2 separate regions of the Homo sapiens genome follow, and region 1 is linked to region 2. Evidence: fine-mapped expression QTL. Tissue or cell type: adrenal gland. Region 2 holds a variant in brackets; the other region holds the start of a gene. All regions are shown on one strand. Distances are from middle to middle.

Evidence for each region. PIP is the estimated chance that this variant, and not a neighbour inherited with it, causes the effect.
Region 1: ZDHHC19 starts here. The variant in region 2 is fine-mapped to the expression of ZDHHC19 in adrenal gland (GTEx, PIP above 0.99).

What each region holds. Positions count from the first base shown.
Region 1 is chr3:196,208,680-196,214,183 of GRCh38, forward strand. ZDHHC19 (zDHHC palmitoyltransferase 19) reads right to left here and starts at 2,721. Exons shown (of 8, transcript NM_001039617.2): 1 at 2,491-2,721; 2 at 1,937-2,058; 3 at 697-836. The coding sequence starts at 2,636. LOC124909479 (a long non-coding RNA gene) reads left to right here and starts at 2,736. Exons shown (of 4, transcript XR_007096240.1): 1 at 2,736-2,960; 2 at 3,942-4,098; 3 at 5,042-5,218. LOC105374304 (a long non-coding RNA gene) reads right to left here. Exons shown (of 4, transcript XR_001740544.2): 4 at 5,084-5,232.
Region 2 is chr3:196,235,594-196,241,609 of GRCh38, forward strand. PCYT1A (phosphate cytidylyltransferase 1A, choline) reads right to left here. Exons shown (of 9, transcript NM_001312673.2): 8 at 3,954-4,142; 9 at 1-3,301. The coding sequence ends at 3,095. Among named protein-coding and RNA genes, the nearest start is that of SLC51A, 22 kb to the left of the region's middle. The variant G/A (reference allele first, on the strand shown) is at 3,794.

The sequences.
Region 1 (5,504 bases), 27 kb before region 2:
GCTTCCACCCCCAGGGAGAAACTGAGCCACAGAATGCCTCATGCTGGCATTTCCCTTGTTAGAGCACAGTTAGGACTCTGGTATATACGGTCACCTGTCAGAAGACCTTTAGAGAGAAGACTGGCCTGGCCTTCTGTGAGACACATCCTACTGTAACTCTGGGCAGAACGTAAACCATCTCTGGACCTCCACTTTCTCATCCATTCGATGAAGATGACAGTAACAGTAACACCCTTGCCCAGCCAGCCTCCTGCACTTGTAAACCTATGCAAGCCGTGCTCTCGAGAGAGATGGTCACTCAGAGCCAGGAGACCCTCCAACTTGGACACCCAGGCGAGGACAGGCAAGGCCTCCCAGACCAGGCGGGCAGCCAGCCTGAGGGGCTTGGGTATCTCGTGTTAGCGAGCCCAGGGGTGGGACAGAGGGCTGCCTCTCCTCCCCTGGCCTGACCCAGCCCAGGACAGATGCGGATGCCCTGTGCATGTCAGCACCTCTGCAGGCAACGGCCAGCCTCCCAGGACAGGTGCAGGTGGAGAACACATGAGTGACCAAGGGTGGCTGGGAGTTACTGCCACCCTTGGCCTTTAGCAGTCCTGAAAACAGCTTCACACCCAGCCCTGGCCCCTGTATGAGGGAGGCTCCTGGTCCCAGCCAGATGTGGGGCGATGGCTGGTGGACAGGTAGAGGGGCACTCACCTCCACACAGATGTTGCACCAGGGGCAGTGGTAAGTCCGGGGCGGGCGGTGGAAGCAGCACTTTGGACACCATTGCAGGCGGAAGGCCCCGTGGTTCACCCACACCACGTGCACCGTCAAGGGGCCCTGCTCAGCGGAGCCTGGCGTGGGAAGAGGATTGGGCACAGCAGAAGGCCCTGCGGTCACCCCGCGGCGGGGGCAGCTCCACGGCATCACAGGGCACAAGGAAGGGTGGGGACAAGGTGGGCAGGGGAACCCCTGTCCCCACTGAGCAAGCTGTCCAAGCTCAGAGAGGATGGCAGTCAAAGGGAAGACGGGTTTCCAGCCAGGAGAGTTTTGTATGAAACTCAGGCGTTTGGAACAGTGAGTGCTGCTTTGAGTGTCATTGTGTAGTGAAGGGAGGAAGTGCATACAGTGGTTTGGAAGAGCCCACTGGCTTCTGGCCCTGGCCTGCCCGGTCCTCCCATCTAAGGCAACTGGGAAACCTCAACAATTCTGTTTTTCCACACCTTGGTGGCTTAAGAAACGGGGTAGGGCCGGGCGCGGGGGCTCACGCCTGTAATCCCAGCACTTTGGGAGGCCGAGGTGGGCTGATCATGAGGTCAGGAGTTCGAGACCAGCCTGGCCAATATGGTGAAACCCCATCTCTACTAAAAATACAAAAAATTAGCTGGGCGTGGTAGCATGCTCCTGTAGCCCCAGCTACTTGGGAGGCTGAGGCAGACGAATCGCTTGAACCTGGGAGGTGGAGCTTGCAGTGAGCGGAGATTGCGCCACTGCACTCCCGCCTGGGCAGCAAAGCGAGACTCTGTCTCAACAAAAAGAAAAGGAAAGAGAGAAAGAAAGAAGAAAGGAAAGAAGGAAAGAAAGAAAGAAAAAGAAAGAAAGAAAAGAGAAAGAAAGAAAGAAAGAAGGAAGGAAGGAAAGAGAGAGGAAGAAAGGAAAGAAGGAAAGAAAGAAAGAAAGAAAAGAGAAAGAAAGAAAGAAGGAAGGAAGGAAAGAGAGAGGAAGGAAGGAAAGAAAGAGGGAGAGAGAGAGGAAGGAAGGAAAGAAAGAAAGAGAAAGAAAGAAAGAAAAGAGAAGAGAAGAAAGAGTGAGCGAGGGCCAGAGCAATGAAGACGTGGGGTGAAGGGGTCCAGAGGCTGGAGGAGGGTCAGTAGGAAGAGCACTTTAGGAATCCCCCCTGCAGGTTCCCAGCCCTTGAGTGACACCTCCTTTTCCCAGGGGGCTGATGCCTCACCTTGATGTAAGATGCCAGGGTCTGAGAAGTTGAGTGAAACAAGACTGAAGAAGGTAAGGACAAAGAGGGAGCCTGTGATAACAGGAAAGGCCCACTCCCCGTTCTGAGCCAGCCACCTGCAACTGAGACCAGAGGCAGGCTCGGTCCTGAGCAGGGGCAGCCCAAAGCCCCCGGCCCAAGGCCTGTGGCTTGCTCAGGTCAGGACCCACAGACCTTCAAGCCAGATCTAAAAATCCAGGCTCCAAATACCCAGGCAGACTCATAATGGCTCCACCAAATGTCACCAGCATGACCAGCCACCCAAAGCTCCCAAAATGCACAGGCACCCTTGACCTCTGCGCCTTTGCACGTCGGTTCCTGGAACAGAATATCCCCTTTTCCCTGCCCGCACCCTTGACCTCTGCACCTTTGCACGTCGGTTCCCTCGAACAGAATATCCCCTTTTCCCTGACCTCTCCCCCGGTCTTCTGCACTCCCCTGCCTCCATCCTATCATCTTCTGTTTCCCTGGCTGTCTCTTTGTGGGAAACCTAACGGCTTGCCTGGAAAACTCACGGGAATGCGAAGAAGAGGCCACTGAAAAAGACCAGCAGCACCACATTGAAGGCAGCAAAGAGGCTAGGGAGGAACCAGGGACGTGGGACCAGAGGCAGGGGATGGGGCTCCTTCACCAGCGGCGTGGCATCCGTTAAGAGTGTCATGGCTGGGCCTCCTTCGCCTCCAGGGGAGGTCAGAGCCACCAGGCTTCCTCCCCCAGCCCAGCTTCCAGAGCTCCATGGCCACGGCAGCCTCAGAGCCGCAGCCCAGGGTGAAAGGAAAGAAGGCCCAGTGTGACATCACAGAGGCTGGGGGACCTCAGCAGAACTGTCTGCAGCCCTGCTCTAGCTGCCTCCGGTGACAGGCACTTCCAACAGCAAACCCCACCCCCACCCCGACATGTGCTGGGGAACCGGGAGTTCCTGCCCCTGAGAGGCTGATGTTGTTGGAGAAAATATGACCTGGAGAAACACATGGGAAGAAAGTTGGTAATTTTCAGCCGGCGCTGTAATCCCTGTAATCCCAGCACTGTGGGAGACCGAGGCAGGCAGATCACTCGAGGTCAGGAGTTCGAGACCAGCCTGGCCAACATGGTGAAACCCCATCTCCACTAAACATACAAAACTAGCCAGGAGTGGTGGTGCACGCCTGTAGTCCCAGCTACTCAGAAGGCTGAGGCAGGAGAATCACTTGAACCTGGAAGGTGGACGTTGCAGCGAGCCAAGATCGCGCCATTGCACTCCAACCTGGGTGGCAGAGTAAACTCCATCTCAAAAAAAAAAAAAAAAAAAGAAAGAAAGTTGCTGGGTTTTTTTGTTGGTTTGTTTTGTTTGTTTGTTTGTTTTTGAGATAGTTTCGCTCTTGTTGCCCAGGCTGGAGTGTAATGGCGCAATCTCGGCTCACTGCAACCTCTGCCTCCTGGGTTCAAGCGGTTCTCCTGCCTCAGCCTCCCAAGTAGCTGGGATTACAGGCATGCATCACCATGCCCGGCTCATTTTGTATTTTGTAGTAGAGACGGGGTTTAGTCATGTTGGCCAGGCTGGTCTCGAACTCCTGACCACAGGTGATCCACCCACCTCAGCCTCCTAAAGTGCTGGGATTACAAGCATGAGCCATATTAAACTTCCTTTATAAAAGGCCTCAAAAAGAAGAAACTGAGGCAGAAATTTAAAAATAAATATGCATTCATTCACTCCAAGACAAGTAACAAGCAAGGCAAAAGTTAAAAAGAAAAGAACAAGTTTTCCTCTGCCCAGCAAGCTCACTTCAAGGACAGTTATAAGATAACGCTGTTTAAGAGGCCAAGGCCAAAAGAATAAGCTCCAGACACCCCTCGCCTCCAGAGCAAAGTTGAAGAAAAAAAAGAAAGACAAATTCTTTGACTGTTACTCCTTTCCCAGGTTTCTTAAGCATGATTATGTTTTACAAATGTCTGTATTTAGCCAGTTCTTGTTTTTCTTTCAATGCAGCTACAAAGTCACCAGCTATGCAAGGCCACAAGTTATGCTATAGATGATGTGACCTGTCATATGATTAACTACTTTTATTTATTGGAAGTCTGCTTATAAAAACCCCGCTCTGTCTTTGTTCGATGCTCAGCTTTTTAGATGACAGTCCACTAAGCCAGTGCGTACCTGAAATAAACAGTCCTCTCGTTCTCTGTCTCAGTCTTGCCAGTCCTCAGTTTCCTGCAACATCTCTACTAAAAATACAAAAATTAGCCAGGTGTGGTGGTGCGCACCTGTAATCCCAGCTACTCGGGAGCCTGAGGCACGAGAATCGCTTGAACCTGGGAGGCGGAGGTTGCAGTGAGCCGAGATCTCACCATTGCACTCCAGCCTGGGAAACAAGAGTGAAACTATGTCTCAAAAACACAGAATAAAAGAAAAGAAAAGATTATGCAAAATGGAAGAAACTAGGCACAAAAAGCCACATATTGTATGGTTCCACTTACATGAAATATCCAGAGTAGCCAAATCCATAGAGATCAAAAGCAGATTCACAGTTGCCAGGGTGTGGGAGGAGGGGGACTGGAAGAGATGAGGTTTGTTGTTGTTGTTTTGAGACTGAGTCTCACTCTGTCGCCCGGGCTGGAGTGCAATGGCACCATCTCAGCTCACTGCAATCTCTGCCTCCCGGGTTCAAGCAATTCTCTTGCCTCAGCCTCCCAAGTAGCTAGGATTATAGGCACCTGCCACCATGCCCAGCTAATTTTTTTTTTGTAGTTTTAGTAGAGACGGAGTTTCACCATGTTGGCCAGCCTGGTCTCGAACTCCTGACCTCAGGTGATCCACCCACCTCAGCCTCCCAAAGTACGGGCATTACAGGAGTGAGCCACTGCACTCGGCCTAATTTTTGTATTTTTAAGAGATGGGGTTTCACCATGTTGGTCAGGCTGGTCTCGAATTCCTGACCTCAAGTGAGCCACCTGCCTCGGCCTCACAAAGTGCTGGGATTACAGGTGTGAGCCACGGCGCCCAGCCTCTTTTTTGATTTTTCAAAACTGACTCTCATATTAAGGAAGCCAAAACTTAAGTGATAACTGAAATGATCGTGTTACTGACCACAGGTTCTTTAGGCTCCGATAAAAATTGACACGAGGCCAAGCAAATTTCCCAGACAAGGCTTTATTAGGGGCTTCCGTTCCACCACGGGGGAGACAGCACCGCAGGGAGAGGTCTCCGGCTGGCTCCCCAGGGGACTGCGTTGTGGCGTCTCGAGGAGGGCGACACGCGTAATTCATGAGGTAGGTGAGCGTCCCTGCAGGAGTGACAGAACGCACAGGGATAGTTAGGAATCGCGGTAACACATACATCGCAGGATCAGAACACGACGAGAAAGCCTCTCCCTGGCAGAGGCTTTTGTTTTGTTTCTGTCTGTCACCCAGTCTGGAGTGCAGTGACAAGATCTCGGCTCCCTGCAACCTCCGCCTCCCAGGTTCAAGCGATTCTCGTGCCTCAGCCTCCCGAGTAGCTGGGATTACACCACCACACCTGGCTAATTTTTGTATTTTTAGTAGAGACGGGGTTTCA
Region 2 (6,016 bases):
CGGCCCACCGGAAGGCAGTGGCTGCGCCGGCACCTCCCCGGCTCTGGCCTTCTAATGTCTCACACACAGAGGCTCTGCTCTAAGGCCAACACTTCTGGCTCTCTCATCTTGGCCACATTTGGCCCACCCATGTTGACTGCTTTCTCGTGTGTGATTCAGGGAAACAGCTCCATAGCCTCAAACGTTAATATCTGAAGATTTAGATCCCAGGCATTGTGGTGGTGTGCACACCTCTAACCTCATTTAATTAGGCACAGATGACCACATTATGCAACTTCCCAACAGCTTTCTCCATCTACCCGTGCTAGTCCAGCACCTCAGACCACATTTACCCCAAAGTATCTAACAGGCCACACTATAAAAGATTTTAGCTTTCAGTCAGACAAATAGCTTTCAGTCAAAACGATTAGACTGAGGTGGTAGAAGCTCACCAAAAGGGGAAAGGGAGTTTCCCAATAACATGTACGTTTGCTGGCCCTAGCAGTCTCAGAGGCCTGTCAGCCTGCAGGTCCCGTTCCAAGCACAGGGCATGCCAAGAGCAGCCCACTGAGAGCAGAGGAAGAGGGCTCAAACATTTGGGACCCAGACAATATATTTAGGAGGTATGGCTCCAATAGGGAGGGAGGAGGAAAACCACGTTCCGGGCATCTCCCTGTCTATCCAAATACACTTGCATAATGTGCACTTGGAGGAACCAAGCAGATGGGCTTCAGCACAGACTTCACTGCCACACCACACCAGGGAGAATAAGTTAGACAGAAACAGGCAGCATTCCCAAAGAGAGAAGGCTGACGCAGAAAAGTTCAAAGATGAGACTATGTAACACTGGGTAACACAGGAAAACACTAACTTCAGCTGTTTCAAAGACAGACAGGATTCCAAGCCAAAGCTTGTATGACCAGATTTAAGAGTAAGAACTGCGCTTCAAAGAAGAGTTAGAAATGTCGTTGTCATAGGCGATCAGGATAACAAGAGGCTTCATTCTCCCTCGCCTCTGTGACGCTCTTTCTGGGTGATCCAAGTTTTGTTTTTTTTCTAGTTGATTATTTCTCTTTATTTCTGTATGTGTGTGTGGTTTTTGTTTTGTTTTGGAGACAGAGTCTCGCTCTGTCACCCAGGCTGGACTGCAGCGGCACCATCTCTGCTCACTGCAACCTCCGCCTCCTGGGTTCAAGGGATTCTCCTGCCTCAGCCTCCCAAGTAGCTGGGATTACAGGTGCCCACCACCACGCCTGGCTAATTTTTGTATTTTTAGTAGAGATGGGGTTTCACCACGTTGGTCAGGCTGGTCTCAAACTCGTGGCCTCAAGTGATCCACCAGCCTCAGTCTCCCAAAGTGCTGAGATGACAGGCGTGAGCCACCACGCCTTGCCTGGGTGATCCAAGTTTTAAGAACCAAGGTAGTCCTGCTGTGCAGGCAATGATTCTAGCCTCTGACCCTCAGGCGGAAAACTAGGTGTTACCAGAAAGTGTTTAGGGAGTGGACTATGAGATGCTCACAGTCCTAGCAGAGGCAAGGAAAGAGAAAATGTGGTTTTCTTAGCTGAAAACACTAAAATTCCACCCCCACAAGGGGTATTTATGAGTGACAGGGGTGGGGCCTGGACATAAGCAATTTTCCCCTGGATCTAGCCACAGGATTACTGATGGGTGATGATCTGCTAGGCCGCGTAGCTAAGCAGCTAAGGAGACAGGAGGCCAGGGCTTTAAAAGTTAGAGCATGCTCAACAGCAAGTGCTAAGCATTAGCATTCTTTGATTTGAAAGTCAAGTGTTGAATCCCCCCGGGCAAGCCAACAAGGCAGATGGAACCACAACCACCAGGCGTGTGTGAAAAGTGGGGAGAAAACCTACCACACTCTTGTCACGTGAGGGTATGCTCTGTGGCTTGCTGGAGGAGCAGCAGAGGGAGGTCCCTGCCAGCTGCAGCTCTCAGAGGAAAAGAAAGATGTGGAGCACTGGTTCCAGGGAAGAATGTTCTGAAGAGGGACAGAGGTCAAGGTGATAAGGCTGTTGCTTTAGAAAGGAAGGTGTTTCCTATGCTTTTGCCTTTACATTCTGTGCAAATCTCTCTAATATGGCTATGACCAAAATGGATTAACATCAAGTTCCAACAGCAGACATTTACAAAGTATCCTTTGTAAAAGGCTAGGTAATATTAATAGCATTCAAATAGGAGTAGCAGGGCCAGGCACTTACTCCCAGTAGGAAACTAATCTCAATCGACTTGGTATAGGATTGAGTATTGTCCCGCTCCTCTCCTCATCATTGTAACTCTAAAAGTGTTCCTTCCTTCGAAGGTAGATGGCACGAAAGAGACTGACAAAAGCTCCCAAAGAACTGGGTCACAGAGTTTTCTGAGAAGATGAACACAGCAGAAACACTGCAGTTGATGCCATGGGTCTGCTTCCATCCCCATCAGTGTCTTCATGGACCCCATTGGGTCCAACAAGAAACTCCTCAGGGAGTAAGAAAAGTTAGGTTCAGATCTCCTTCCCGCAGCCACAATGACACTGGTGACAGCAGTACGTTCAGGGGATTTGTGACTGTAACTCTGCTTTTCGCTTTTCCTTAAGGAAATCAAAATTAAGATATTTCTCCACAAATTACCCATCAGCGTGGCTCATTTCGTGAAGGACTTGGCAAGCCACATAGCTTCAGAACGGAAGGCAAATGCTATAGTATACCGGGAAGAAAAGGCCTCTGCGTATTACACTACCTCCTTCTTCTGCCCACTCCTCAGGGGCAAAAAATTAGTTCTACATTTGAAAGACGAATTTTTTAAAAAATTAATGAAAATGACAATTTCCCTGTTGAGATCACGTGAACATAAACAGTGAAACAAAGCCCTTGGGGGGGGGTAAATGGATGCAGAGCAGGCTTCTAAGGTGCAGTCCCCCTCCTTCGTGTGGGTGAGTGATGTCACTTGCAGGACAGGCTGTTTGGGTTCCCCCAGTCCTAGGTCTTCTTTCCCCAGTTGTCTTTCCTTTGTAGCTGTCCTTAGGTTTAGTGTTGGGGTCACAATTTGGAATTCAACAGAGAGCTTCTGAAGGTAATGGGACAGAAAGGGAGGACAGGAAAGGAGGGAGGAAACATTAGTCTTCTTCATCCTCACTGATATCATAGGCTGCAGCCTTGTGCCTGGAGAGATTTGCTGGGGAGCAAGGTGGGGAAGTCTTGCCGGAGAAGGGCCATCGGAAAGAGGGGGAGGGGGAGCGCTCGCGAGTAGGGCTGCTGCTGGGGCTCTGCTTCGGGCTGATGGCCTGCAGCATCCGGCCCTTCCCCTCTTTCAGCATATGTTTCTGCAGAAACCGAAAGGAAGAGTCAGAAAAACACCGTGGATCCTACTTAATCATCACTGAAGCATCTAGGACTGGGATAGTCTATGCTGTACTATTTATTTAAGGGTTCTCCCCTGCTGTCATCACCCGGGAAATTCCCCATTCTTCCTCAATAATCTAGTCTAGGATTATTCTAATTTATCCAAACACCTTCACAGACAGATCCTTCCTGATATCTAACCTAGGACTCACTTGCTCAATCTTTTATTTGGTTGAAAAGACTGCTACTCCTCAAAGACAGAATTCCCACCTTACCTGGGGTTCCTGCTGCAGCTACTTGTAGTGGAGGCTGCTTTCTTTTTATTGTTCTTTATTCTTTCCTTTCCTTCTATCTAAAATCATACCACAGATAAAAGCTGGGCAAGGCGACTTGCTTATCTTGTCACCAGACTTTAAGGTTGAGAGAGAGCTGGCAAAATTATCTAGGAGAATGTGTAACGTCTTTCTGTAAAG[G/A]TTTCAAAAACCTTGCTGGGGACAGTTGAAAGATAGTTCTGCCCAGATAAGGGGATAGACTAGATAACTTCTCAGTGTCGATGCCCCTTCCTGCTCAATGATTCTGTCATTCTTTCCACAACATGGAACTCCCTACATTGTCCAGTGGGAAAGAACATACCAGTGCTCCTTCCGGACCAAACATTTCCAGAAAACTTCCAATGAATTCTCGGGACTTCTCCTCCCACTTCTGAATGAGGTCAATGCTTTTTTCCTCCACCTTCTGAACAAATTCTTTTGACTTTTCCTCCACATCTTTCACTTTCTTCTTTACTTTGTCAACCCTCTCCTGCAAGTGGTATTTCTTCTCCTAGATAAAGAAATAACTCTTCTGAGAAATAATGCTCATCCTAAACTTCTCTACCATAAGAGAACGAAAAAACATGGCTCAAGCACTCAATTGACACTGTTTTCAGTCTAGAATTTTGCTTTGCTTTAATCTACCCCACTCTCAGCATAATAACAGATAAGATATGCTGTGGATGCACACACAAGAAGTGGTAATTCTAATATTGTGGGCATTTGGGAATAAACTAAAAATATAGGCTATACCCAGTAACAGGCACGTAGCCAAATAAAGTCAGAGTTTTAAAGATAAAACATAAACTTGGAACATAAACATGCGCAGCATGGCCCGAACCTCATTCCAGACGGAGATACAGAGGCAGCTAAAAGATCACTGCACAATACTGCCAAGAATAAACTAATTACAATAGATTGAAAGAGAAAATACTAGATCTTTTACTTAATTAATCTGCTTATTGTACTGGATTTTTCCCCTCTATCACTGGCTTATTCTATTATTTTAAATGAATTGTGTTTTTTGCTTTTTGTTCCTTTAGTATTTTAAGGTCCATTTACTCATTTGCAAAATGATGATACTCGTTGGTCTTACCAACTTTGCTAAAGATAAGGAAAATGGTATAAACCCTCCGGTGGAAGGGAAGGGAGTATTTAGTCAAATGAGAAGTATCCTTGGCCAGGCACAGTGGCTCATGCCTGTAATACCAGCACTTTGGGAAGCCGAAGTGGGAGGACTGCTTGAGGCCAGGAACTCGAGAGCAGCCTGGACAACATAGCAAGACCTCATCTCTACTAAAAATAAAAATATAAAAAATAAGCTGGGTATGGTGGCCTGTGCCTGTAGTCCCAGCTACTCAGGAGGCTGAGATGGGAGGAGCACTTGAGCCCGGAGGTCAAGGCTGCAGTAAGCCAAGATTGCGCCACTGTACTCTGGCCTGGATGACTGAGTGTGACTCTATCTCAAAAAAAGAAAAAGAAAAGTACTCTCAAAATTTCCAGATCATAAAGAGAAAAGGGATTATGTTTAGAATTTTTAAACACCTGATTTTTATGGGAAAAATAAAGCTATAGTAAGTAAATTAACAAGAGCTAGGGTTTATCTGCCTAGATAAATCATATTTAGATGTAATCATTTTATCCATTCTTATAGCACAATTTACAGAGATGGGAGTAGGTCAGGGAGCATGGTAAACTGGTTATGTAGAAGACATTAAAGTTAGCAGCTTTCTTCTTTTTAAATCGATTTTATTGAGGTCTAATTTACATACAAAATGTATAGTGTTGGCTGGATACGGTGGCTCATGCCTGTAATCCCAGCACTTTGCGAGGCCAAGGGGGTCCGATCGCTTGAGGCCAGGAGTTTGAGACCAGCCTGGCAAACATGGCAAAACCCCATCTCTGCTAAAAAAAAAAAAAAAAAAAAAAAAAAAAAAAATTAGCCAGGCCTGGTGGCACATGCCTGTAATCACAGCTATTCAGGAGGCTAAGGCACCAGGAGACAGAGGCTGCAGTGAGCCGAGATCACGCCACTGCACTCCAGCCTCGGTGACAGAGCGAGACCCTGTCTCAAAAAGAAAGAAACACTACATATATATATATTTGCATGAATTTTTTTAGTTTTTTTGTTTGTCTGTTTGTTTAGAGATGGGGTCTCGCTATGTTGCCCCCAGACTGGTCTCAAACTCCTGGCCTCAAGCAGTCCTCCCGCCTCAGCCTCCCAAAGTACAGGCATGAACTACCATGCCCAGAAAAATATATAGAGTTTCTAAAAGGCAATATTAAGCTAAGATAAACTTAACTTTCGTCAATCCAAATTTAAAACTCAGGTCTGTGTGGGAAGTGGTGTGTCGGGTGTCACTATCCACACGAGGAGGGCTCATA